Homo sapiens: one gene and its partners. The protein of the gene in region 1 interacts with the protein of each later gene in a pairwise test. Each region holds a gene or a part of one and is shown in the gene's direction. Other genes may lie near its edges. The genes, in order: VMA21, DAGLA, THSD7A and YIPF1.

Region 1 (7,025 bases):
ATTTCCTCCCCTCCAGCCTCCCACCCCCACCGCCATGGTAACTACTGTTTTATTCTCTGTCCCTGTGTAGTTGACCGTTGACCTTTTTTTTTTTTTTTTAAAGATTCCACATATAAGTGAGCTCATGTAGTATTCGTCTTTCTGCGTTTGGCTTATTTTACTTAACATGTCTTCCAGGTCCATCCATGTTGTGGCAAATGGCAGATGTCCTCTTTTAAGGCTGAATAAAATATTCCCTTGTATATATACACTACGGTTTCTTTATTTTGTCTGTCTACATACACGTAGGTTGTTTTCAAATCTTGGCTATTGTGAATAATGCTGCAATGAACATGGAAGTGCAGATATTTTTACGAGGTAGTGATTTCATCTCCTTTGCTTATATTCCAGAAGAGAGATTGCTGGGCTGTGTGGTAGTTCTATTTTTAATTTCTTTAGGAACTGTTTTCCATAATGGCTGTACCAGTCTACATTTCCAGTCACAATGTAGTAGGGTTTCTTTTTCTCCACACTTTTACAAACATTTGTTATCACTTGCCTTTTTGATAATAGCTGTCCTTAGAAGTGTGAGGTTATATCTCATAGTGGTTTTGATTTGCATTTCCCTGATGATTTAGTGATGTTGAGCACATTTTCATTTATCTCTTGGCCATTTTTATGTCTTTGGAGAAATGTCTGTCCAGCTGTTGTCCATATTTTAATCAGGTGGTTTTTCTGCTGAGTTGTAAGAGTTCTTTATAAATTTTGGGGTATTAACCCCTTACAAGATAGGTGGTTCGCAAATATGTTTTCCTAGTCTGTAAGCTGCCTTTTCATTTTGTTGATTGTTTCCTTTGCAGTACAGAAGCTTTTTAGTTTGATGCAAGCCGCTTTATTTTTTCTTTTGTAGCCTGAGCTTTTGGTGTGATATCCAAAAAATCATTACTGAGGCCAATGTTAAGGACCTTTCCCTCTGTGTTCTTTTATGTCTTAAAACTTTATATCTTTATGTTTTAGTTATTTTATCCATTTTGGGTTGATTTTTGTTTATGGTGTAAGAGTCCAGTTTTTTTCTTTGCATGTAGAAATCCTGTTTTCCCAGTACCACTTATTGAAGGGACTGTCCTTTCCCCATTGTGTTCCTCTTAACACCCCTGTCGAAGATTAGTTGGCCATATATGTTTGGATTTATTTCTGGGCTCTATTCTGTTTCATTGTTATATGTTTCTGTTTTTATGCCAATACCATATTGTTTTGATTACTATAACTGTAATATTTTAAATCAGAAAGTGTGATGCTTACAACTTTTTCAATGTTGCTTTGGCTATTTGGGGCTTTTTGTGGTTCTGTATGATGAATTTTAGGATTGTTTTTCTATTTTAATGAAGAATGCTACTGTAATTTTGATAGAGATTGTGTTATATCTGTATGTTGCTTTGGGTGCTGTAGACATTTCAACAGTATTAATTCTTCCAATCCATGAACACAGGATATCTTTACATTTATTTGTGTCATCTTCAATTTCTTTCATCAGTGTTTTATACTTTTCAGTGTACAAGTCACTCATCGCCTTGGTTAAATTTATTCCTAAGTTTCTTTTTTTTTGAAATAGAGTCTTGCTCTGTCACCCAGGCCAGAGTAAAGTGCCCCAATCACTGCTCACTGCAGCCTTGACCTCTGGGGCTCAAACAATCCTCCCACTTCAGCCTCTTGAGTAGCTGAGATTACAGGCACGTGCCACCATGCCCAGCGAATTATCAAAATTTTTTTTTGTAGAGGTGGGGTTTTGCTGTGTTACCTAGGCTTGCGTCAAACTCCCGGCCTCAAGCCTCAGCCTTCCCAAAGTGCTGGGATTACAGGCATGAGCCACTGAGCCTGGCCCCTAAGTATTTTTTTTTAATGCTATTATAAATGAGATTGTTTTCTTGATTTCTTTTTCAGCTCAGTAAAGGATGCGGAAGTTTGTCAAGTGCTTTTTCTGCATCAACTGAGATGATCCTACTTGGTCATAATATATAATCTTTTTGATGTATTGGTTTTGTTTGTTTGTGACAGAGTCTTGCTCTGTTGCCCAGACTGGAGTGTGATTTTGGCTCATTGCAACCTCTGCCTCCCAGGATCAAGGGATTCTTGTGCCTTGGCCTCCCAAGTAGCTGGGACTATAGGCACACGCCACCACTCTCAGCTAATTTTTGTATTTTTAGTAGAGACTGGGTTTTGCCATGTTGGCCAGGCTGATCTCGAACTCCTGGCCTCAAGTGATCCGCCTGCCTCGGCCTCCCAAAGTGCTGGGATTACAGGTGTGAGCCACCACACCTGGCCTGATTATTGTTGAATTTGGTTTGAAAATATGTTATTGAGGAATTTTGCACCAGTGTTCATCAGTGATGTTGTCCTGTAGTTTTCTTGCTGTGTCTGTCTGGCTTAGGTATCAAGGTGATTGGAGCCTCTTAAAACGTGTTTGGAAGTATTCCCTCTAGCTCGATTTTTCACCCATAACAGAAGTTCCTATTCCAGCTGGGGAGGGCGCACTGGTCCGTTCGCCCTGCCTACCTCCTTCAGTGGTCTGGTGTCTGGTGCTGGTGGTCAGGGTTGCTGCACGGGCTCAGGGACTGGTGTGGCAGTGGCTTCCCTGGGCCAAAGCTCTGATCCCAGTGGGGGAGGGCACGCTGGTGCGTCGGCTCCACCTGGTTAGTTTGCTGGTCCACTGTCTGGTGCTGGAGGACAGGAGGCTGGCAGCTTTCCCAGATGCAAGCTCCGATTCCAGCGGGAGAGGGCACACTGCTCCACCTGTGGTGCCTGCCGAGTTCCCTGGTCTGGTGTCCGGTGCTGGTGGTCAGGGTTGCTGCGTGGGCTCAGGGACCAGTGTGACAGTGGCTTCCCTGGGCAAAAGCTCTGATTCCAGTGTGGGAGGGTGCACAGGTGTGTCTGCCTCGTTAGTTCCCTGGTCCACTGTCTCATGCTGGAGGACAGCAAGCTGGTCGCTTCCCGTGACGGAAGCTCTGATTCCAGCAAAAGAGGGCGCGCTGATCCACCCATGGTGCCTGCTGCGTTCCCAGCTCTGGTGTCTGGTGCTGGTGGACACGGTTGCCGCATGGGTTGGGCACTGGTGCCGCTGTCCGCCGTGGCTTCCCTGGGTAAAAGCTCCAGTTCCAGAGGCAGGGGCACTGAGTTTCTTCACTTAGTTTGTTCACCCAGCTTGTTGGCAGTTGATCTGAGGTGCCCTGACGCTTCGTCTTACACTGGATATGAATGACAGTCCCTAAAGGTGGTGTATAATCTTCATGTTCCAGCTCAAGAAATTCCCACTACCCACAGCTGGTTCTCTAGGATCTTCGGATTACGAGTCCCTGCCTGTGATCTTCCTCCTGCATAGCATCTCATTTGTGGATGTTTATAGTTTCAGGGACATAAGAGCGTTTGGATATGACTGTGCAGGTTCTGATTTTCTCTTTGTTTACTTTATTCCAGAAATGAAAGCTCATTAGCATCTACACTGAAGACGCTCCTGTTCTTCACAGCTTTAATGATCACTGTTCCTATTGGGTTATATTTCACAACTAAATCTTACATATTTGAAGGTAATCTTAGACCCATTAAAACAAGATGTTTTCCCCCAATTTAAGATTCTGTGCTTTTATGACCTCTTTATATCTTTAAACTGGGTATTCTTATTTTTTTCTTGTTTAGCTTTTCAAAAAATCATATTGCTCATAATGAGTCTTTATGAAATAACTTATTGTTTCAGCTTGACAGTTTTCCTATGGTTTTCTGTGAAATAGCTTGCAAATCCTTTCTCTTAGTACCTTTTAAAGAATAGGGGTTGGCTGACATGGGAGGAGGAATTTTGGGGGAATGGACTTTAGTGTCAGATAACGGAAGGAAGAGAGAATGAAGTCCCCTTTTTGATGTTGAAATTTTTTTTTTTTTTTTGAGACAGTTTCACTCTTGTTGCACAGGCTGGAGTGCAATGGCGCGATCTCGGCTCACCGCAACCCCCGCCTCCCATGTTCAAGCGATTCTCCTGTCTCAGCCTCCTGAGTATCTGGGATTACAGGCACCCGCCACTACACCCGACTGATTTTTGGTATTTTTAGTAGAGACGGGGTTTCGCCATGTTGGCCAGGCTGGTCTCGAACTCGTGACCTCAGGTGATCCACCCGCCTCGGCCTCCCAGAGTGCTGGGATTACAAGCGTGAGCCACCGCACCCGGCCTGAAGTCTTTATAATTATGGTTTTGTTTAAAACAATGTTTGTTTGTTTGTTTGTTTGTTTTTGAGACGGAGTCTCGCTCAGTCACCCAGGCTGGAGTGCAGTGGTGCGATCTCGGCTCGCGTCAAGCTCTGCCTCCCAGGTTCACGCCATTCTGCTGCCTCAGCCTCCCGAGTAGCTGGGACTACAGGCGCCTGCCACTACGCCTGGCTAATTTTTTTTGTATTTTTAGTAGAGACGGGGTTTCACGGTGCTAGCCAGGATGGTTTCCATCTCCTGACCTCGTGATCTGCCCGTCTTGGCCTCCCAAAGTGCTGGGATTACAGGCGTGAGCCACTGCACCCGGCCAACATAATGTTCTTAATATATAGAAGGTACTCATATCTTTTAGTGAATACTTTATTCATTACCACCCAAAATATTACTTTTTAATTGCCTGACTAGTTAAATAAATACATCATAAAAATTAGGATGCTTTGTTTTTTTTTTTTGTACTTTGGTAAATTTTGCAATAAAATGGAAACTGTTTTTTTTCTCTTGATAGGCGCCCTTGGGATGTCCAATAGGGACAGCTATTTTTACGCTGCTATTGTTGCAGTGGTCGCCGTCCATGTGGTGCTGGCCCTCTTTGTGTATGTGGCCTGGAATGAAGGCTCACGACAGTGGCGTGAAGGCAAACAGGATTAAAGTGAACATCACCTTTTTATAGCATTAAATTCATTTTTTAAAATGATAAATGCTGGAGGGGGCCATCTGATTTGAATAAAGTTGAAAGAACATGTTAAAGTCAGTCTTAAGGAGTCACGTTTGAGTATGTAAATTTTGATCTTTCTAATATGTTGGTTTGTATATTCAGTTTTAACTGTATGAATCTGATTTGCAAATGAGAATTTGGAAAAGTTAGTTACAAAGAAATATGTTAATTTAATTAGACAATACTCTGGAAGGAATTTTATCTTCTTTCAACAAAACATGTTTTATAGTATTCTGACTTACGGTTGCTTTTGAGTTTTACTCATTTGGATATATTAAGATGCACACAGTGAAGCAAATTAAACTCCACTTTACGCTGGAATGCTTTCTTTAGCATGAAAATACCAGGTCCTTGGATTTGGGATTTTAATTTCCTATGGAAAGTTGCTTAAATTGTGGACACTGGAATTAATCTGAATGTCACTGAGGAATTTCACATGAAGTGTAATCCCTAGTCAATAAGAATTATCCATTACATTATTTTATGGGAAAACTAGGCTAAATTACATCCATTCAGGTAAAAGGACCTTAGCTTACTGAAGGATCTAAAGAGCAAAGCAAAGATCTCACTACTCAAACACTCAGCCTGCTTCCTTCAAGTCCCCTTGCAGGCCAGCTTTGTGCTTTGCAGACCAACTTTTTAATGAGATACTTTGCTTCCTCATTCAACATTGAAGCTAGGCTTCAATTAAAAGGTTCGAGGAAGCTCCATTTAAAATTGTTTTTTTTACTATTTTTTAAAATTGTAGTGTATATGATAGGAATTTGCATTTAAATATGTTCATTTTTGCATATGTTAGGAGTGGAAACAATCTGGAAAACATTTTTTTTTCATCCAAAAAGTATTCTCCTTGGGCATATCTGATGGAAAAAAACCTTGATTTTATTTTCGTATCTTTAGTCTGTGTTCTTTCTAGTTATTTGGTACTAATTATGTGCAATCTAAAAACACTCCCACAAGTATTTGTTTTTTAATTATAAAATCATAGTATATGTTCTTTGTAGAAAACTGGAAAAATACATATTCAAACAGGAAAAAAAATCAAAATTCCCCATAATGTTGCCATCTAAAAATAACCTCTATTTTAGTTGATATCCCGTATTCATTTTTGAAAGCCATTCCTTAATGCTAGTTTGATACACACTAAAAGTTTAGCTTACAAGTTCAAATTCTGCCAGCTTTTCCTGACAGCTATTTGCATTTTTTTCAGATGAGTGATTATTGGCCATTTTCTTTTTCTTTTTCTTTATTTTATTTATTTATTTTTTTGAGACAGAGTTTTGCTCTGTTGCCCAGGCTGGAGTGCAGTGGTGCAATCTCGGCTCACTGCAACCTCTGCCTCCTGGGTTCAAGTGATTCTCCACCTCAGCCTCCCAAGTAGCTGGGACTACGGATGCCTGCCACCACGCCTGGCTAATTTTTTTTTGTATTTTTTTGTAGAGACGGGGTTTCACCATGTTGTCCAGGCTAATCTTGAACTTGTGACCTCAGGTGATCCACCCGCCTCGGCCTCCGAAAGTGCTGGGATTACAGGCGTGAGCTACCACGCCCGGCCTTATTGACCATTTTCTAAATAAGCACATTCTATCTTTATTCTCTTAAAATTCAAATTTTCTGTTACTGATAATCCTAATACTAGGATTCTTGCTTAAGTATGTGAAACCATTACCGATTTGTTGTTCACATTTATTTTTTATGTTGTGAAACTGGACTAAAGGAATAGAGGGATGATTAGTCATAAAAGTCAAATAGCATTTGTGTTTAACTGTTGAGAAAAGTGAAAGATCAGTATGATTATTATGGAACTGTTTTTAATTCTTGCTTAAAGACTACAATTTTAGTATAATGACATTTGAGTCTAGGGTAGTATGTGGTAGATTTCTAGATGGTCCCTAATTAAGAAGTATTGTTGTATTTAGAATTGTCCACCTAATTTCTTTTTATATAATGCCAAGGTATTTCTTGTGCTTTTGGGATCTTATGCTGTTTGTAAAATGTTACTGTCCAATGTTGGATTATTGTTTTGGTTTCAGGCATTTGCTGAATAGGTGATGATACATGGGTATTTTTCTGCAAGTAT
Region 2 (7,902 bases), on another chromosome or scaffold:
CTACCCACCTCGTCAGATGCATCAGGACTCAGGGTGGGAACCAGCACTCATCACATTCAAGGGTGGAAGACCCAGCATCGGAGGGGTGGGCAACAGACCTCACACATACTACGGGATCCAGGGCTGTGTATTGCAAAGTCACATTCACTGTTTAGCTCGGAGGCCTCTCTGGACTTTCTACGTCTGGGAATAAGCTAGGCTAAAGCTATCATGCCCCAGAGCTGTGATTTCATCCAGTTATCCTATACCCTGCAGCCAAGCTAAAATATAGTCACTATATCTCCCTCGGCCATGAGCAGATACTTTATACTTTAAAACCCTGCATGCTTTGAATTCCCCTGACTGCTTAGCCAAGGTGTCATATTGGCTCCCACTATCTCAGGCAGTGAGGAAAGGTGGTCACTCAATCCCTGCCTCCACAGGGCAATACAGTCAGGGGATGGTGCTCAGCTTAGGAATTCTGCAGTTGTCTTTCTGCAGGCAGCTCTACCCTACTGCAGTTACTGACCAAGCCATCCCATCCTGCAGCTGCTGGGAGCTGAGTTGGGGCAGGGTACAGCTGTGCCAGCTGTCGGAGATAGATTACACTATGAAGCTCGGCTGTGACTCACATTCCAGCACAGGGGAAATGCGCAAAAGTTCTATGCTGTCTTTGGGGTGCTAAAAATCATCCTGGCTTTGTCTTGCAAGATGTTCGGCTTGCGGAGCATGGGGCAGATGGAGGACCCTTCCATCTGGGTCCTCCATGGGGAGGAGGCAGGGGGCAGATCTGTCTCCAGCCAACTGCCTGTCACACAACTGCCACAGCTACTAATAACAACACTCAGCATTTAATCAGCCCCTTTGTGGATGCAGACGCTGTCACACTCATTAATTAGTTAATCTGCACAGCCCCGCAGGAGGAAGAGTCATGTTATTATCCCCACTGGGACTCAGAAGGAAACTGAGGCCAGAGTGGGAACTTGGCACAGAGCGGAGGGAGCACAGCCTGACAGCTGGACTGGGACCAGTCTACGACTTGTCTGTTCTGGTGCCCTCGCTCTTGTCCTCCTCCCCAGCTCCTGTCTGCTCACAGTGCTGGTGACTATCTCCAAAGACACCTGGCCAAATGCTGTCAGAACTGGGCCTGAAGGTGCTCAGAGAGAAGGCCAGGCATGGCTTTGGCGTGGAGAGGATGCACCTCTGGTAGCTGGACCAGGTCAGGTCTGTGGGGAGTGTGTGCTCTGGAACAGCCACCCTTTCTGATATGTTTCTTCCAAAGCGTCTTGGAACTAGAAATAGAAGTGATGAGGGTGCCCCTCTCTCTCATCAAAATGCCTGTTTCCTGTGCAGGCGGCTCTGGGTTTTGATTGTGTGTCTGGTGGTTTTAGAATGGAAGGGAGGAGCAAATCCATCAGGAGGCACCATTGTGGTTCCACTGGAAACTGGGACTGGCCATCTGGGGATCTTTGACACACGCAGACACACACACACACACCATGGGTAGAACCCACACCCCCGTGAAGGACCTCTTACATCATTGTACCCAGTGGTCGATGTTGCTGGAAGCCTGCTGAGATGCCTTACAGCCATGGCTCAGCCCTCAAGAAGAAGGCTTAGGTCAGTCTGTCAGGCAAAGAATCCTGACTGAATAAGAATCGGGCAGGAGACCTGCAGAACACAGAAATAAGGCGTTAGAGGATGGAATTCGCTAGTACCTTCTAGGAGTTTGTGACCAATTGCAAAAATAAAGACTGCAGTCCCTCCCTGTCTTTCCTTGCTTGTTACTAGAGTTGTTGAAGATTAAATAGTTGACCATTTCCCCCTTTAAGAAAATATGAATCACAATTTGAAAATGTTTTTGTTATCTTTCCTTTTCCTTTCACCTAACATTTATGTGTGTATGTATTTTTTTGAGAGGGAGTCTTGCTCTGTCGCTGGAGTGTAGTGGCGTGATCTCGGCTCACTGCAACCTCCGCATTCCAGGTTCAAGCGCTTCTCCTGCCTCAGCCTCCTGAGTAGCTTGGATTATAGGCGCGCGCCACCATACCCAGCTAATTTTTATATTTTTAGTAGAGACGGGGTTTCACCATGTTGGTCAGGCTGGCCTTGAACTCCTGACCTTGTGATCTGCTTGCCTCGGCCTCCCAAAGTGCTGGGATTACAGGCGTGAGCCACCACGCTGGGCCTATTTTTTTTTTTTTTTTTTTGAGACGGAGTCTCACTCTGTTGCCCAGGCTGGAGTGCAGTAGCGGGATCTCGGCTCACTGCAACCTCCACCTCCCGGGTTCAAGCAACTCTCCTGCCTCAGCCTCCCGAATAGCTGGGATTACAGGTGCCCATCACCATGCCCAGCTGATTTTTGTATTTTTAGTAGAGATGGGGTTTCACCATGTTGGTCAGGCTGGTCTTGAACTCCTGACCTCAGGTGATCCACCCGCCTCAGCCTCCCAAAGTGCTGGGATTACAGGTGTGAGCCACCGCACCCGGTCACCTAACATTTATAATAGTGGTGTTTCTCAGCCTTTCATGTGCATTCAAATCACCTGGGAATCTTGTTGCCAACCTGAGATTCTTGGGCCTGAGATTATGCATTCCCGTTAAGCTTCTGGGTGGTGCCAATGTCTCACTCTGAGTAGCAAGAGTTCAAAGGATTTGGTGATGGTAAAAGTAACCCTTTAATTCAGTTAAATGACCAGATGGGATCAATCACCTTGAAGATCTTGAAATAATAGTAGCCTCATGACATCAAGTGTGAAGGTGACTGTTGGTACTTGTCTGGTGAAGACAACTTTGGAGGAATGGGAAGAAGGACTGGCGTGTGTCGGGACACATGTGTGCACATGGACACATGTGAGTTTGTGTACATGGGACAGCTAAGGGATGGATCCGTAGTAGACAGCCTTTTTTTTTTTTTTTTTTTGAGATGGAGTCTGGCTCTCTTGCCCAGGCTAGAGTGCAATGGCACGATCTCGGCTCACTGCAACCTCTGCCTCCCACGTTCAAGTGATTCTTCCGCCTCAGCCTCCCGAGTAGCTGGGATTACAGGCACCTGCCATCATGCCAGGCTAATTTTTGTACTTTGGTAGAGATAGGGTTTCACCATGTTGGCCAGACTGGTCTCGAACTCCTGACCTCAGGTGATCCACCTGCCTCTGCCTCCCAAAGTGCTGGGATTACAGGCATGAGCCACCGCCCCTGGCCGACAGTCTTTGGACTGGCTGTTCAGGTCATGATTCTCCTCCTCTGGGAGTGTCTCTCAACGGGGAAAAGTGGACTGACATGTTTGTATCACAAAGCACTTTCTGCCCTGGCCATAGCTGATTGACCGTGGCCTGATCTGGACTAATAAGATTCTTTTTTTCTGGGAATCGGGAACTTTGAACCAAGAGACATCCAATCTGGCAGTTTTGATTCTGATTAATGGCAATGATCTAGAAAGAAGATCCCTAAACTGATACTGCTACAGTTGTCCCTTAAAGCCTCCCCTGATCTCTGCCCTTCCTGAGCCTTGAGGAATTCAACTCCTCCTTGAATCCCCTGAGGTGCCCCACTGGGTATATGCGCCCACTCCTCATTTTCCTTGTTACCTACGTGAGTTTGCTTTCTAAATAATCACAGGTAACACAGAACTCCTTCCAGAAGTGGCTCCATCTGCTTCAATAAAAGGCAGTCCTGGCCTCACAGTCTCATTTCCAACCCAAATGTCCACGTAATTTTCAGACCGAGGCTTCTGCTCAAGCCGGGCACCCCACTACCCACACCTCCTTGTTCACCTATGGCTCCCACTTCTACTGAACTGCGCGATCACTGTGATTTTGGGGGTGGCAACAGGGCCTAGGAAACATTTTAGAGGCACTTCTCTTGCCTGAAAGAAAACGTTCTTCCCCTTTTTGTCTCTGATGAATCTTTACTGGATCTTTGGGACCCAGCTGAGTCATCCCGACCTGCAGACTGGACTCCCATCCCCAGGCTTAAATTCCTTTCCAAGGGCTCTGTCTGTCCTCTCGGCTTAGCTTCTGTGTTAAAACCCCCTCCATCTGCGTCTCCTCCCCAGCAGAATGAGCTCCTTGAAGTCAGGGCCCGCCTTCTGCTCCTCTCTGTGCTCCACTCCCCCAGTTCAGCACAGTGCTCCCAGGGAGGTGTAAGCGACTTACGGTGAATGAAAGGGCGTGAAGGGGAACAGGAGGGGCGGTTTTCTTCATTTACCAGAAATTCAAAATTGACCAAGTAAACCCCTTTGGAGACCAGGCACGATGCTGGGCACTGGGAACGGGGGTAGGGGTGGGGGGTGGGGGGGTGGTAGGGAGGAGGGGGTACCCAGGGTACCCACGGGCTCTGTCGCCCGTGGGGAAGGATGGGCATTTACCCTTCCCATTCATCAGGATGGGAGGGCCACGGACTCCCCCCACGGCAGTGCCGGGTAGACCCCTGCACCACACCGTGCCAAGGCCCTTTCTCACAGTCACGCCAGGAACTCTAGCCATGCTCTGACTTCTCAAGCAGAGTTCAGTCACCCCGAGGAGGTGGGACCCGTCTCTCTCCTCCCCACAAATGAACCAGTTCTCCAGTGATCCTACTTCCTTTTTTCCCTCTCCCACGCTAAAACTGGTCACGAGGGACCTAAAGGAGGGGCAGGCACCCAGGCGGCTCCCTTCCCCGCACGCATCGCGGCCAGTCCAGCCCCTCCCGGCCGCCCACGGGACCCCAGCCGAGCCTGAGCCAGGCGCCCACCGCCCCCACGCGCAGGGCCGGCGCCCGCGGAAGACTCGGCTCTCCCTGGCCTCGACGCCGCTCCCCTCCCTGGCGCCAGGGGGCGCTGCCTCCCCACGACCGTCGCCATGGTCACCGCTGGCGGCGGAGAGGGGTTTACGTAAAGGACGCAGCGTCCCCCGGGGGGCGGAGGCGGCCTTCGCGCCGGCGCCGGCGCCCTGCGGAAGCGGCGTTAGTGAATCGGGGCCTTGGGGAGCCCAGGATGGAGGTGGCGGTCGCGGCGGCGGGCCGAGCCCTGCGGCGGGCGGGAGGTAAGGGGGGCCTCCGGCGCGGCGGGCCGGTCCTGGGCGCGGGCGCGGTGCGAGCGGCGCGGCGGGCTGGGCAGTGTCCAGGGCGCGCGGTGGCCGGCCCGACGGGTCGGCGGGCGGAGTTGCAGCTGCCACGCGCGCCCGTGGCAGGTGTGAGGTCTGTGGAGCCCCTGGCACCAGCGTGGGGATGGTGACACGCGTGGCACGGGCGTGGGCAACGTGGGTCCGGCACAGGCGGCGTGGTTTTCCTGGAACGGGTCTCAGAAGACTCGCCTCCACCTTGGTGCGGTGGTGGCCACGCAGGTGTGAGGTGGTGCAGCTGTCTGCACAGGTAGGTGATGGGCACGGCCTTCGGACTGGTTATGGGATAGGTGGCCAGCTCGTGCCGGCATGGTGGTGCCGCTAGCATGGGTGTGAGGAAGTGCTGCCATTGCTTGGGTGTTGGGATGGTTCTGGCCTTGGGCTTGACATGATCTGGGGTGATAGCACTGGGGGCTTGAAGAATTGGTGTTCTCAGCATGGCTAGAGTTCCTGGCATGACTGTGAGAAAGGGCCTTGGCACGGTGTGGTGCGGGGGGCTACCCGGCACTGCCGCGGGGGGAGTCCGTGGCCCTCCCATCCTGATGAATGGGAAGGGTAAATGCCCATCCTTCCTCACGGGCGATGAAGGGGACACTGCCTCTGTCATGGGGGTCCAGTTTTAATGCCTGTTGGGTACACTGGACTGAGGAGGGCAGAAGGCTGGGAGAAGGTTGGTGTCCTTTATAATGGGCATAAACAAGAGATGCCAGGAGAAGCTTCTACCACAAGGGCCCTGATGGTAACCCAGATAGAGACCTTCCAGGCACTACCGTTGTCCTGGGCTAAGGTAGAGAGAACCATTCATCTAGCTTTTCATCTAGCTTTGGGAATGAAGGGAGGGGTGGATGATTTTCAGTGGTGATCGGTGTCCCAGAATATGTCCTGAGAAGCAAGCAGGACCAAGAGGTAACCCGGGTCAGCGAGTGAGGGAGTGGTATGGCGCACCATCTATCTGTAGTCACGGGGTCCTGCCTTCTCCCTGGGTTGATGGGTTCACTCCAGGGTATCTGGGAGTTGCCTCTCTTCTTTGATGCTGGGGAGCCTTTGGGTCCAGAGGATTGGATCGATTGGGGTATGCTTGAAAGATGATTCTGCAGCCACTGGGAATCTGCTGGGGCCACCGGGACTCCCACCCCCAGGCTTAAATTCCTTTCCAAGGGCTCTGTCTGTCCTCTCTGCTTAGCTCCTATGTTAAAACCCCTCCATCTGCGCTGAGATTGTGTTTGCTCTCACCAGTCCTTTGGGAAGCTTTGGGTGAAGGTCTCACTCAGCATCACCTAGTGCCTTACTTTACAGAGAAGCAATTTGCAGCTCCTCCTAGAGAAGTCTTACAGTGTAGGGGAAATCTTCAGTTCTTTGTGGATCTCTTGGGGGAGTGGGATCAGTGGTAGAAGAATCACAGGGTTGAGCTTGTGCTGGGGAAGGCACTTATGAGTCCAAAAAGATGATGTTGAGGGTAGGGTGGCAGGTGGTCGCCAAATTGCCAAGGTGGGTGCTTGGAGATGCTGATGAGTTCCCTATAACCGGAGCACTGTCCGATGCCTTTGGAGCCATATCACTTTAATTCCAGTGTTGGCTGTGTGACCTTCAGCAGGTGACTTCACCAATCAAGGCATGTCACATGGTGGTCTGGTAGTAAAGAATGAAAGGAAATGGTGCACGTGGAAACACTTTGCAAACAGCGAAAGACTGTACAAAGGTCAGAGAGTCTCATCAAGTAAAGAGACCAGGGCTGGAGGCAGGAGCCATAGGAAATGGTGGCACGGGATGTGATTGGGAGGAAGGGAGCCGGAAGGTTGAGGGCCTGTCATAGGGAATTAGAGGCCCTGAGCGCACATGCTCCCGGTGGGGGCAAGTGGGATCTGTTGACACTGTGAGTCAGCTGCTGAGCTGGAACCAGGCCCCCGGTCTCCAGAGGACAGTCCTGAGCATGGCCCCGGCAGCTGTGAAGTCCTGCAGGAGTGGCCCAAGCAGGAGGAAGCACTTTGCTTGGGCAGCAGACGTGCCTCATTGCCAGGGTAGGTCTGGGAGGTGTCTGTGGCTGACAGATCTAGGGTACCTGTGTGGGAGGAAGACTTGGGAAGTGTGTGTGTTTTCTCTGGAGAATTTCCTTTGGCTCTGGGTTCTGAGAACGGGGGTGGGGAGCAGTCACATCAGCGTCTTTTGGGCTGTGGCCTGAAGGAAATGAAGTGGGTCAGAGCATCCACAGATCGATGTGGCTCAGGTCTGGATGGTTCTGCGGGAGGTTGAGGCTGGATGGCAGGGGGACGGGGGGGGGAGGTGTGGAGGATGCCCTCAGACACATAGGGGAAAGGAAAGGGGGCTACAGGCACCTCTGAGGGCAGACAGGTGTGGCACCTCTCCCAATGTGGCCCCACTTCTGGCTGAAGTGCCTTCCCAGGTGGGGAGGATGAGGGTGGCTGCACAGTGCTTTGCTCTCTGCCACCAGGAGCCTAATTCCCGACAACAAGCTGCAGAGCCTGAGTTGCAGACCCTGCCCCATGGCGCTGGAAGTCCTGTTTTTCTCTCACCCAGGCCGTTTCTTCAGCATTCCATGCGGGTGTCTGCCTTAGCCAGCAACCTGTTTCACATCCTTGCTCCCCGAGGAAAGTTTTTGCCCTGTGCCCAGGCTGCAGTGTCAAGCCATGTGGGTGGAAGGAGGACACGGCCCTCCCAGACCCAGGGTTGTGAGCTGACTTTTCCATGCTATGGACTCGCCCTGTCCCCGTAGCTGCCACGCAGACACTGTCCAGCATTGCAGGTGCTTCCCTGGTCATTCCCATGTTGGTCTGAGGGGTATCCATGGCCTGTCTCACCCGCT
Region 3 (7,025 bases), on another chromosome or scaffold:
GTTGCAGGCGGCAGACAAGGGCCTGTCCTCAAGGGGCTATAGAGTCAGTCTAATGTGATAAACAGATATTAAATATTTGAAAAAATTACTGATTCTACTAACCGAAAGTGTGACTAACATTTAAACATTACGTGAGAAACATATATGGTACTCTGGAAGTGTGTAAAAAGGGAGCTCTCCATAATTTGATGTCAGTAAATGATGAATCATTTTCAAAGCAACCATCTTCTACTTTTATTTTAGAATGAACTTAGAAGTAAGCCAAGATTTTTTGCTAAAATTTGGTTTGTAAGAGTTTGATATCTTCACCAGTCCTTATCTTGTCTAAGGTAATTTTCAGACTTAAGAGTTGACTAGTGTAGCATAGTTCTGTTTCATAGTTGTTTTAGGGAAAAAAAGTTATTTTCAGTATGCGTGTTTTCCTTAGCAATAACATATAGACTTGAAGTCAATTCACATTTTGTGTACTCAGATTTCTATAATAAAACATTAATTTGTGTTAATTAGTAAATCACATCTATTTTATTTTATTTATTATTATTATTTTTTTTGAGACGGAGTCTCAATCTGTTGCCCAGGCTGGAGTGCAGTGGTGCCATCTCGGCTCACTGCAACCTCCACCTCCTGGGTTCACACCATTCTCCTGCCTCAGCCTCCCGAGTAGCTAGGACTACAGCGCCCGCCACCACGCTTGGCTAATTTTTTGTATTTTTAGTACAGACAGGGTTTCACTGTGTTAGTCAGGATGGTCTCGATCTCCTGACCTTGTGATCCGCCCGCCTCGGCCTCCCAAAGTGCTGGGATTACAGGCATGAGCCACAGCGCCCGGCCCAATCACAACTATTAATAATAGTGCTGCCTACCTAAAAATGTACAGTTATGTTTTTTAAGTGACACCCTTATAAGTTTGCTATAAAAAATCATTTGTTTACACTCTGAGGATAAAAGACTAGTAGCCTCAATCTGATTAGTCAGTCTAATTTCATAATTAATTTTAAAAACTGGAAAAAAATAATATATCAGGAAGTTCAACTAAATTACATCTGGGATTTAGAGTCTGATTTAGTATAAGACACTTATATTTTCAAATTCAGACTTAATGGCATATAGTTTACTCTTAATTTGAGAGTCTGATATAAATATGTCTTTATATGTTGTGTTCAGATGGAAAATAAGGACCACTGTTTTGTTCAAGCACAGTGGGGATGGGGAATAAATGCCAAGGATGTGTGGAATTAATTAGAAAATTTTATACATATTACTGGGTTCTCATTTTGAGAAGTTTCCTAGGTTCTGTGGTTCCCAAAGTGAGTATTTAGAAAAATCTTTAAGAAAGTATCACCAGATTTGTGAATATATATTTTTTCTTTGGCAAGTTAAAAATAAGATTAAAATATTATTAGGTGGATTGCATTTTGACAGATGCAACAAACCCACTGGCTTTCTCCCATAAAGTTTCAACATTCATACTTCAAGGAGACTGTTTCCCAGTCTCCTTGAGTATTTTATATCCCTTATAAGAATGTTACATCACTAATAAGCATGAGCATTTTACATCCCTTATAATTTTGTACATGCAAACTTCATAAAGGAATGATACGGGTATGCCAACTATGCAATATTTACTTTCATGCAATAATGATTAGTTAGCACAATATTTACAGCAAGTCTCTATTCTATTTACAACTCCATAATGCCATTTGTAAGGAAATTCTCAACAAACTTTAAACATCTTTCTCATTAAGCAAAATTAAATGTTTAGATTAAATATGATAGGCACATTCTTTATATTTCTTTATTCATATACTAGCAATTGTTATGTACAGAAGAAACTAACTGAGGCTAAAGCTCTAATGTCCAAGAGAAATCATACAACTAAAAGTTGGAACTGGAATCTAAAATCCAGAATGGTTTTGTTATTCATTAAATATTTGAACTCAGCAAATCACTTTCCCTTCTTGTTTCCTGTTTTTCTCATCCGTAGAGCGAATCCATTGACCTACTTTAGCAGGTTTCAAATTTCCACAGTAGAAACCTCTTGCAGACATAATCTTATGCATAATCCCCATGTGAATAAAACTAATAATACAAATAGAGTTTTTCTTATAAAAGCATCAATCAGGGAGGACGACAGTAGTGTAAGGGTGTGAGGGGCACTAGAGCCCACCCCACATGTTGGCCCTCACCTTCCCACACAACAGATGGAAAATGGCTTTAAGGCACATCAAACAATTTCTCAAATTCATGGAATACTTTTTGAAAATCATGTACTTACATGAACTTTAAGTTTCTTTATGATTCCAAAATAATACAATTCTCAATTTCGTAAATTGGGATCTGTCTATTAAAGTACTGAAAATCATATCATCTACCTTAGAAAAAAATAATATATGTGAATATAAAGTTTATTCTAAGAAGGATTTCACAGAAAAAAACCCATATTTCATATTAAAGCCACTGATTTAAGTATCACATCAAACAGCTCTGTAATACCAAATAGTTCATGTTTAAGAAATGAATAAATAAATAAGACCCCAAATAACCTCTCAATGATTAGAAAATTGCAAAAGTCTTTTAGTTACATTTAAATTCCCTTACCCAGCTCTATACTTCACTTGGGAAATGGGGGGGAAATTTGGTAAATTTAAAGGCAGAATGTGTGTAAATGAAGATTTTTGCTTCTTAGTTTTGATAACCAGAGAGTGAACACTTTAAGCTCTAGTGGCACACATGATATACAACTATTAGACCCTTGCAGTCATAGTCTATGAAAATAAAATATGTTGAAGAAGAGAGCAAGTTCCACAAAATAGTTAACTGTCCAGGAAGAGAAATGCCTGCAGGAGAAGTTCTTCACACGGGGCCATTTTCTTTGCCAGTTACTGAAATGGATTTGATGATTGTGAGGCCGGAGTAATGAGTTTTCACTGTGACTAATTTCTGATGTCCTTTATCAGCAAGGATTTCTAACTACCTAAAACAAAGGAAATGAACAAAACCAAACTTTTCGTAATCCCTAAAGGACCCAAAGTGAAATTGTCCCAGAAGTTACCTTATATAGACTCTGTGACACAGTTCCCCTTTTGCAAAAATACTTAGCGAGGATCATTACTTTCCAACAGTCGTGTCCAGAGACCTACTTTGTAACACCGCAGGGAAGTTAATGTACTAGGTCTTGAAAGGTCTTTCTGGAATGTGCAGTAACTTGTAGTTTTCTTCTAGTAGCACTGCTAATTTTTGTGTTATAATTTTTGTAGGTCCATGGGGCCGATGTATGGGAGATGAATGTGGTCCCGGAGGCATCCAAACGAGGGCTGTGTGGTGTGCTCATGTGGAGGGATGGACTACACTGCATACTAACTGTAAGCAGGCCGAGAGACCCAATAACCAGCAGAATTGTTTCAAAGTTTGCGATTGGCACAAAGAGTTGTACGACTGGAGACTGGGACCTTGGAATCAGTGTCAGCCCGTGATTTCAAAAAGCCTAGAGAAACCTCTTGAGTGCATTAAGGGGGAAGAAGGTATTCAGGTGAGGGAGATAGCGTGCATCCAGAAAGACAAAGACATTCCTGCGGAGGATATCATCTGTGAGTACTTTGAGCCCAAGCCTCTCCTGGAGCAGGCTTGCCTCATTCCTTGCCAGCAAGATTGCATCGTGTCTGAATTTTCTGCCTGGTCCGAATGCTCCAAGACCTGCGGCAGCGGGCTCCAGCACCGGACGCGTCATGTGGTGGCGCCCCCGCAGTTCGGAGGCTCTGGCTGTCCAAACCTGACGGAGTTCCAGGTGTGCCAATCCAGTCCATGCGAGGCCGAGGAGCTCAGGTACAGCCTGCATGTGGGGCCCTGGAGCACCTGCTCAATGCCCCACTCCCGACAAGTAAGACAAGCAAGGAGACGCGGGAAGAATAAAGAACGGGAAAAGGACCGCAGCAAAGGAGTAAAGGATCCAGAAGCCCGCGAGCTTATTAAGAAAAAGAGAAACAGAAACAGGCAGAACAGACAAGAGAACAAATATTGGGACATCCAGATTGGATATCAGACCAGAGAGGTTATGTGCATTAACAAGACGGGGAAAGCTGCTGATTTAAGGTAACATTTTAATTACTGTTAACTACACAGGCTTGTCTGTCAAGAATCATGAGTACCTAAGATATCCGGTACTATCTAATAACTTCTGGATTACGTAGGGGCACAACCTAGGATGAGCTACCCCCAAATTTAAGGCTTCTGAGCTTGTGTGAGTTTCTCGGTGTTGTTTCTATTGTGTCCACATTTAGGCCCTGTATTACTTGAGTTATTTTGATTTTCCTTTCAAAGTCTGGAGCATGAGCAATTCTTCATGAAAAGATACTGCTTCTTCTCTATGTGTAGACAGTGTCGTTTCCCTATAATAGAAAAAAAAATTGCTTAGGGGCTGAAATATTGGGATTTTAAATTCAGATACTTATTTTAGTGAGCTAATAGAAAAAGGCATAGTTGTAATCTCTCCAAGACAGCATTTTCAGAATTACCCTATAAACAAAATCTGCTCTAAACAACAACCCAGGGAGCTATACCTAAGAATAATTTTCTTGCACATTGTATATAATGGAATAACTCCCTCCAGAGAAGGAAACAGCAACCAGCCAAAAATAAGGTAAGTAGAGGGTATTGAATCATGAGTAGCCTCATTCAGGAAACATGTAACTAATTAGCTTCATTTTCTAGACAGAAATTATTTAACAAATTATCTTTGGGTACATAATGACTATATTATGAAAAACTATCTCATGTATGATTTACTTATTGTGAAAATAATTTTCATTGAGGATTATCTGAAAGACATGATGTTCTCTGGGTATTTTGAATTTTGCTCTTGGATAAACCAGACCATCTGGGAGTGGCTTATCTGGATATTTGCATAATTGCTTTTTCAGAAATATTTATGCAGTTATGATTTGGATTGAACTGAAAAAAATATAGTAACATCAGTAAGAATTGTATATCAGATTTACTGTAGAAATGATATTGAAAGTGTCATCAACTCTATCACACAGTCTATTCTCTTGATTAAAAAACATATAAGACAAATTTCCCTGAAGTTTCGACCTCTGCGCTTCTGGTGAACAGCTGGATTGTTTTTCTTATGGCCTCTGGAAATCTTGTAACAGACCACATTTGCATGTTAACTTCTTCTGTTAAGAACCTAAATAGGACTGTGTGGCATGCATGTTGTTTATTAACATATCTTTAGCTTTATTTAGCTTTATTTTTTTTCTCACCTGATTTTTTTTTCAATCTATTCTTGTCTACTGATTTTGCTATGCATAGATTTTGAAATCTGGTTTAAAGTGTTTTTGGAAAAGGATATAGTTTAATTAGATAAACAAAAATTGATTGGTCTGTCTAAGACAATAACTTTCTCTCATCATAGAGTTCTGGTTACTGTTTTTTGGAATTTTTGCTACTCTCTCCCCTCTTTGTATTGACACGATTGCATTTTATTTCAGCTGTACGGTAATTTGCCCTTTTTCCATTCTAGTTCTGGTCCTGTGGCCTTGAATGAAGGCTGTTGTTCTGCCTTCATTCTCCAGGTTTCCTACAACTCCTTAAATGTGTGTGTGTGTATGTGTGTGTGTGTGTGTGTACCTCTGATTCTGTATCATGTATATTTTCAACTCAATTCCTATTTTGTTCTTTTCTGACTATCCTTATTCTGGTGATTTTCTTATCTCTTTTCCTGAAGTATATTACAGTTATATTAGTTACTTGGCTGACATCAAATAATTGAATGAGTCTCCAAGACAAGTTGAGTTGTTTCCTGCTATCACTGGGTTAGCATGCTGTAGACATTTAATTTAACGTTGACTACTCAATTAAAAGTGTAATTAGGTTAGTAGCTACCATTGCATAGAGCCTAATATTCTCATCCAGTTGTTTGAATTAAACAAACATATTTAAAACTGCAGAGTTTATTTGTCAGGAACTTGTATCCCATTAGAAATAGCATATATAACTTCCAATAAATTGATAGTTGCATATATTTTCTGACTTATTACAGTATAGGTTAAACTTTATGTTAAATATATTGGCTGTGAATATTTCTATTATATATGAATTATCATGTGTGATCAAGAAAGTCCTAGAGAAGAAGAGATAAAAATCAGATATTTTGACCTACGTTTTGCTCAGATATTATACCATGATATCAGTGAAGCCAATAAAGTGAAGAGTGAATCAATGACATCACCAAAGCACAGGGCCACAAATCAAGAACTTAGTGATCAAATTTAAAATGTTTTAGCTTCTATTAAATCCAGAAACAATTTTACCATGTAGGAGAATAAAAATAATTTAATATGGCTAAAAATTACATTATAGTAACTGCATAAGTTTAACTAAATAAAACCAAGAATCTGGGGAGGCAGATCATAGACAAAAATAATTTTAGAATTACTGCTCAAATGTTTAAGTTAACAATGATGGATCTGCCCTGCTTTCCACTTTCCAATAGACCAAAATCAATAAGAATGAAAAACACAAATGAAACTCTATTCTGACAGCAGGAAACGGTTACAGTCCCAAACCACAGTTGATACAGAAATTTGGCTAATGTGGTAAAATTAGACACAACTTAGGGAGGACACTTAGAAGGGCATTATGTGTTACAGCTTTCATGAACACTCAGAATCTCTAAGAGTAGCCTGAACTTTCTGAGGGGACAAGCCAATGACACTTCCTTAGCATGACATGGTCTGTGTCAATGAAAAGGGCTGCTGAAGCATACTTGAGTTCTGCTTGAAATCAGAATAGCATAATAGGCAGGAAGCCCACTATGCTATTATTGCCAACAAAAGACTATCAGTTTGACAGACTGAGGGATTAAAGTTTTGACAACTAGTGGAAGAGAATTCTAAATCACTACACATACACTAGGACACAGGAAGCTTCCCTGTAAACCAGTGACTTCCAGCCAGGCTGGGTGAAATCTTAGCAGGACCAAGAGATGGTATGAAAGTATACCAGGTGTTTCTCCAAGAAACCAA
Region 4 (7,025 bases), on another chromosome or scaffold:
ACCGCTTTCACTCCTCTCTGTGAGTGCTGCAGACCACAGCTACTTCTAATCGGCCATCCGTTTTCCTTTATAATGAACAAAAAATATCTGCCTATAGCACCTGCCCTTGTCCTGCAAAGCAGCTCAGTGTTCACCGTACTTTTTGCTGTATGAATTCCCTTCGGATATCTGAAGATGACAGGCACAATTCCTGGCATTGGGCATGCATTCTGCCACCAAAGAGCTGTGTTGTTGGGATGGGTATGGCCCTCCTCAGGTGCCTCTTCTCAATAGGATTTTTTTTTTTGTCAGAGTAGTAATATTTTTAGTACTTTAGAGTGAGTCAATATATCAGATTTTTGAGAATTCAGGTGGCAATAGTAGGGAGGATTGTGGATGGATGGGGGAGGAAGAGATATTTACACTGCTGGATGCAGTGGCTCACGCTTGTAATCCCCGTGCTTTGGGAGGCTGAGGCGGGAGTATCACTTGAGCCCAAGAGTTTGAGACCAGCCTGGGCAAAATAATGAGACTCTGTCTCTACAAAAATTAAACAATTAGCTGGGCATAGTGGTGTACGCGTGTAGTCCCAGCTGCTTGGGAAGCTGAGGTGGGAAGATTGTTTGAGCCCAGGAGTTCAAGGCTGCAGTGAGCTATGATTGCACTACTGCACTCCAGCTTGGGAAAGAGAGTGAGACGCCATCTCAAAAAAAAAAAGCGAAAAGATATTTACACTGACTGCCTTCTGTATGTGTTGTATGTGTGTATATGTATTTATTATTGTACATAATTCTATATACTGTTGAATCTAGATAAGGGAACTAAGCCCAGCAGGAGTCTAGTGATTTGCCAAAGCTCCCCTCAGTGGAGGGGCCAGGATTTGAACCCTTTTGGTGTGACTTCAAAACCAATGCTTGTTTTTCTAATCAGGCTGAGAGTTGCGAATTGGCTATTTCAGAGTTGGTTATTGAATGTGGAAGAGCCTATTGTTTCAAACGTTTTGCTTTTCCATTAGATCAGATCCCTCCTGCACCCCACGCAGCTGGAATTAAGAAATTGCTTATGTGTTCATTATGTTTTATTTTATTTCTGACAGTTACTTGCTGGACAGAAGAAAAGCTCCCCCTTCTGGACATTTGAATACTACCAAACATTCTTTGATGTGGACACCTACCAGGTTTGGAAACCAATTTCACCTTTCCTTTTACGGGTAAAGGAGACTTGTTTCTTTAATGGTTGAACAACCAAATAATGTGAAAGCCTTTATATACTGAAAATGGTCTTACAAAAGTAAAGGGTTATTAGCATTTGAAAATACTATCATAAAAGCTCTAATGACTGAGTTTCAATTTTGTAGTAGTTGAATTTATTAAACTTAAAAAACTTCAGTAGAATTACTGCTATGATGTTTTCCAGGTCTTTGACAGAATTAAAGGATCTCTTTTGCCAATACCCGGGAAAAACTTTGTGAGGTTATATATCCGCAGCAATCCAGATCTCTATGGTATGTTTAGTACTGATTTGTTTACCGTATTTCAGTTGAACTTGGGTGAGTGTGAGGGTTGCCTGGAAATGTGGAGAACTGCACTATTGGTGGGGCATGCCATGTATTATTAGACTTTTCTGAACTTCAGTAGCAACCCTTGCAAGTAATTTTGGAGGAATACAATTATGTGTTATATTAGTGCCACGTCATCATTACAAGTACTAGTATATCCTTCAAAGGTCTTTAAATGGGGCTGAGCGCAGTGGCTCATGCCTATAATCCCAGCACTTTGGAAGGCTAAGATGGGAGGATTGCCAGAGGCTAGGAGTTTGAGACCAGTCTGGGCAACATAGCAAGACCCTGTCTCTACTAAAGGCTGGGTTGGCACAGTGGCTGCCGCCTGTAATCCCAACACTTTGGGAGGCCAAGGCAGGAGGATTGCTTGAGCCCAAGGAGTTTGAGACCAGCCTGGGCAACATAAGGAGACCCTATCTCTACTAAAAAATAAAAATAAAAAGAATGATTTTTAAAAATTCTTCAAATAACTTTACAACTTGAGACAAATTTAGTCACTTTGACTAGGTGGAGATTGGACCATTTGATGTTGGAGGAGAAGGTATTCTCACACTTTTTCATTGATATGCTGAGTTCCAGCTCTGCCCTCAGATGAGCTGGCTCCTTTTAGGATTTGGTCACCAGCAGTGGAAGTCTAAAACAGGATTGGGCCGGGGATTGTTGTCATCCCTGACCTTAATGCTGTCTGAGAAAAACTCAGAGGTCCACCCAGTACTCCTGAGGAAAAGGCCCCAACAGTGGCCTGTGTTTGAGGGGAGAAGAGAGTGCTGTCCGTGTGCCAGGTGCTGTACCAAAGACTGTGTGTGTACTTGATCATATCTCATTCTTGCAACAACCCTTGCAAAGTATCCCCACTTTTCAAATGAGGAAGCTGATGCTCAGTGAGGATCATTGATATATATGCTCAATCAGAAATGATAAATAGTAAAGCAGTCATATATGTTGATTTTAAATATGGACTCTAGGGAGCCTGGTGTGAAAACCATTGCACTGGCCCATGCTTTTCATCTGAGGGTTGTCAGGGTGGTTTCTCTGTCTCATTCATTCTTACTTGTAGCCTGAGAACATCCTGAGGGGCAGGCTCTGTGCCTCAGTGTCTTTAGTGCCTGGCAGAGGCCTTGGCACACAGCAGGTGCTCAAACAATTTTTAGCACCTTATTTTATGCTAGACTCTGTGCTAGAGGCTGAGGATTTAAAGATAAGGCCATGGTCCCTAGCCCCAATGAGGAAGAAGAGAGAACACTAACATCTGTTGAATACCTTATAAGTGCCAAGCGTGGAGATAAGCACTATTTTAGTATTTTATGCTATTTTATTTCCCATACTCCAAGGTAGCCTTATCTTACAAAAGAGAAAACTGAGATTAAGGAGATAACTTGCCCGTAGTTACAGAGTTAGCAATAATAATGGCAAACACACATATAATGCTTATTATGTGCCAGACACTATTATTAGGGCAGTACCTGTATTAACTCATTTAATCCTTATGCCAGATCCAACTTCATGAGGGAGATACTATTATTATCCCCATTTTATAGATGAGGACACTGAGTCACACAGAGGTCCAGTAACTTGCCTGAGATTATACAGCTAGTAAGTGCTGGGCTCAATTTTCAAATCAACACTGTAGCTCATAATCCATTTCTTCATCACTATGCTATACTGCCTCTCATGACAAAGCCAGGGCTTGAATCCAAGGCTTGCTTCTTTTCTGTGACACTAGTAGCCTCATTAGCTCATAGACGTGGTTAAAAGAAGAAGGTACAATATAGGTGAAGTGTTTGATAGCAGAGAGGATTAGGTTTTGTTGTGGGTGGAGGTTAGAGGAAGGCAGTTAAGAAAAAGATGACAATTTACAGAGTGTAAGGAAAAGATTGATAACTTTGACTACATTTCACCTAAAATTTAAAATTTCTACACAACAAAATAAACCATAAGTAAAGTAAAAAAATAAACCACAGACCAGGGGACATACTTCCAATGCATATAACCAACAAACAGTGAGAAACAAGAATATATGTCGAACTCCCACAAATTAGAAGAATAAACCAAGCAACTCTGGGGAAAAAATTGCCAATAAATATATGAAAAGATGCTTAGCCCCACCTGCAACCAGAGAAATAAAAAGTAAAATAAGATTATTTATGCTCATTATTTTAGTAAACATACACAGTTTGGCTTGTCTTCATTTATTCATTCAATTCATTCAACAAACATTGAGCTCTTGCTATTGTACTGGAGATACAGCAGTGAAAACATAAAAATCTCTACCCTTAGGCAATTTTTAATTTACTGAGCTTAACAATAAGCAAAGAAAAGTAAAATATATAGTTTTCTAGTAATGAATGCTTAGGTGAAAATTTAATAGCAGAGAGAAGAAGGACATGAAGTGTTTGTATAAATGGGTGAATTTGAAAATTTAAAAAGGTGAATTTTGAGTAATGACCTGAAGTAATTGGGAGTGATTTATGTAGATATCTAAGGGAAGAGCACTTGAAACAGAAGGATCAGCAAGTGCAAAGGCCCTGAGGCAAGAGCTAGCCTAGTACATTCAAAGAACCTCAAGAGGCTATTGCGACTGGATGAGAGTGAACAGGGGGACCTAGAAGGAGATGAGGTGAGAGAGACAGTGTGGAGGGACAGGTAAGGTCTCATAAGTCACAGTGAGGACTTTGGCATTTGCTTGAATGCAAAGCCATTGGAGAGTTTGGACAGACGAGTAACATACTTTTTTGTTTTTTGAGACTGGGTCTTGCTCTGTTGCCCAGGCTGGAGTGCAGTGGCTCGATAATGGCTCACTGCAGCCTCAAAATCCTGGGCTCAAGCCATCCTCCCCCACCTCATCTTCATGAGTATCTGGGACTACAGGCATGTGCCACCATGCCTGGATAATGTTTGTATTTTTTGTAGAGACAGGGTCTCACTATGTTGTCCAGGCTGGCCTCAAACTCCTGGCCTCAAGCAATCCTCCTGCCTTACCCTCCCAAAGTGCTGACCTTACAGGCATGAGCCACTGCCCCAAGCCAGGAGTGACATACTCTAAGTCAGATTTCATGAACATTGATATTAAGTGTGGCCAAGGATATGGAGCAGTGGAAACTTTTGTATGGTAGGTATGTAACTGGTGGGTATGTAACTGGTACACAAATTGGAGCAGTTTGAAGATGCTTATACCCTATAATTCAGCAGTTTCACTCCTAGGTAGATAATTTTAGAGGAATTCACATATATATGGAACAACATATAGAAGAATATTATCCACTGTAGCAGTATTGCTTGTAATAGCAAATATTTAGAAACAACCAAGATATCCATCAGCAGGAGAATGGATACATTGTGCTACTATATTTATACATGGAATTCTGTAGTTAAAAAAATGAATGAGAGCTAAAAGCATAAATATAGATAAATCTTAGCACAATGATTTTAAAAAGCATGTTGTGGAAGGATATGAATAGAATGATACCATTAAAAATATATATATATTTTTTGAGACAGAGTCTCACTCTGTCACCCAGGCTGGAGTGCAAAGGCGCAATCTCGGCTCACTGCAACCCCTGAGTCCTGGGTTCAAGTGATTCTCCTGCCTCAGCCTTCCCGAGTAGCTGGGACTACAGGCATGTGCCACCACGCCAGCTAATTTTTGTATTTTTAGTAGAGACGGAGTTTTACCATGTTGGCCAGGCTGGTCTCAAACTCCTAACCTCAAATGGTCTGCCTGCCTCAGCCTCCCAAAGTGCTGGGATTATAGGTGTGAACCACCATGCCCGGCCTAAAAATATTTTTTAAAAGTGACATGCTAGGTAACCAGTGTTTGTGTTATTCTTCGTGCTTTTCTGTATGTTAGAAATATTTCATAATATAAAAATGCATAATATGAAATTTTAATTATAAATACAACCTAAATTAAGGCTCTCTCCCACCCCCAACCCATAATAAGAGTAGGAATTTGGCAGGAAACGGAGAAGGCAGTATGAAGCAACATGGCAGGTCCTGGGATGAGTGGGTGTCGTAAGTCTCTGGAGTCCAGCCTTCCACTGGGGGTAGCTGGAGAAGTTACAGAGCCCAGATCCTGGGGCCTTTTATATCAGCCTCAGGAATTAGGATTTTGTCCTTAAGCAGTGGAGGTTCAGTGAAGGGTTGCAAACGGGGGAGAGGGATGATAATAGGAGAGGGACAAAAATGCTAAGGGCTGGGAAAGTTATCTTGCTTGTGTCCAAGGATGAGCATTGGGCCACATAGAGGTAGTGGGTGGGCAGGTGTTGGACCTTTCAGGCCACCTGAAAATATTGTTTCTCCAGCTGTTCCCGTGCCAGAGTTGTTAGGTAGCTTAGAGCATGGGGCAGCTAGAGAATGCTAGATAAGTCTTCACATTAGTATACATATCTTCCCATACCAGCCTGCCTTTAAAAAAGTTAATTAATATTTTAGTGAAAGGGTTTCATCATGTTGCCCAGGCTGGTCTTGAACTCCTGAGCTCAAGTGATCTGCCTGCCTCAGCCTCCCAAAGTGCTGGGATTATAGGTGTGAGCCACCGCATTCCCCCCCGCCCCCACTTTTTTTTTTTTTGAGATGAGGTCTTGCTGTGTTGCCAAGGCTGGAGTGCGGTAGCTATTCAGAGGCATGATCATAGCTCCCTGCTGCCTCAAACTCCTAGCCTCAAGTGACCCTCTCACCTCAGTGTCCTGAGTAGCTGGGACTACAGGCTTAAGCCACCAGGCCCAATTCACAGGCTTCCTGTTGCCCTCAAGATAAATTCCTAACTCAACAGGGCTTCTAAGACCCTTCATGATCTGACTCTGGCCCATCTCTTCAATCTCTGGCTACTCCTGACCTGAAGCTTGGCCTCGAACTGGTACCTCTTACTTCAGTCTCTGCTCCTGCTATTCCCTCTTCACGGACCTCTCTTCTCTTCTGTCCTCACTTGGTGAACTCCTGTTCTTCTTTAGATCCCAGCTTACACATCCCTTTCTCTAGGTTTTCCACCTTCCCTATATGCTCCCATAGGCACCCTGTACTACCTTCTGAGATTAGATATTTTATTGATCGTCTCCCCGGAGTGCATGGGTGCACTAGAGGCAGTGACTGTGTCTCTGTTGCCCATCATCGTGTCCCCAGCAGAGGGTAGTGGGTACTTAGTAAATAATGACTGAGAGGACATAATATTCTTGGTTTTCTAGTTATTTGGGTATTGTAAGTTAATATTTTGGCCACTTGTGGTCATACCCTTGGATGGTCTCAGCTCATCTATAACACATGGTCAGATTTATTCATTCAGTAAAGCTTTTTGGCTATAGGGGCTTTGTGGGGTTTTTTGTTTGTTGTTGGTTTTTTTTGCCACTCTTATGTGTGGTCACTCAGAATAATACTGTGAGATTTAGTCCTTGTCTACAGCAGAAAGCTTTCAGTCTAGTGAGTAAAGAGGCAGTTTGTGGAGAGCTAATATTGGTGACTTTTTGAAGCATACCCATTTGATTGCTTGTGT

What was found.
Region 2: the proteins of VMA21 (region 1) and DAGLA interact in binary tests that used the Homo sapiens proteins (3 or more experiments, as listed by UniProt).
Region 3: the proteins of VMA21 (region 1) and THSD7A interact in binary tests that used the Homo sapiens proteins (3 or more experiments, as listed by UniProt).
Region 4: the proteins of VMA21 (region 1) and YIPF1 interact in binary tests that used the Homo sapiens proteins (3 or more experiments, as listed by UniProt).

The regions. Positions count from the first base shown.
Region 1 is NC_000023.11:151,400,181-151,407,205, forward strand, and holds part of VMA21 (vacuolar ATPase assembly integral membrane protein VMA21), read left to right. Parts: intron 1-3,450; coding exon 3,451-3,560; intron 3,561-4,735; coding exon 4,736-4,878; 3' UTR 4,879-7,025. UniProt on the Homo sapiens protein: Required for the assembly of the V0 complex of the vacuolar ATPase (V-ATPase) in the endoplasmic reticulum.
Region 2 is NC_000011.10:61,675,502-61,683,403, forward strand, and holds the start of DAGLA (diacylglycerol lipase-alpha), read left to right. Parts: upstream 1-4,889; 5' UTR 4,890-5,003; intron 5,004-5,310; exon of another isoform or gene 5,311-5,331; intron 5,332-7,001; exon of another isoform or gene 7,002-7,099; intron 7,100-7,902. UniProt on the Homo sapiens protein: Serine hydrolase that hydrolyzes arachidonic acid-esterified diacylglycerols (DAGs) to produce the principal endocannabinoid, 2-arachidonoylglycerol (2-AG).
Region 3 is NC_000007.14:11,633,194-11,640,218, reverse strand, and holds part of THSD7A (thrombospondin type-1 domain-containing protein 7A precursor), read left to right. Parts: intron 1-3,257; coding exon 3,258-4,089; intron 4,090-7,025.
Region 4 is NC_000001.11:53,872,773-53,879,797, reverse strand, and holds part of YIPF1 (protein YIPF1), read left to right. Parts: intron 1-1,075; coding exon 1,076-1,156; intron 1,157-1,395; coding exon 1,396-1,483; intron 1,484-7,025.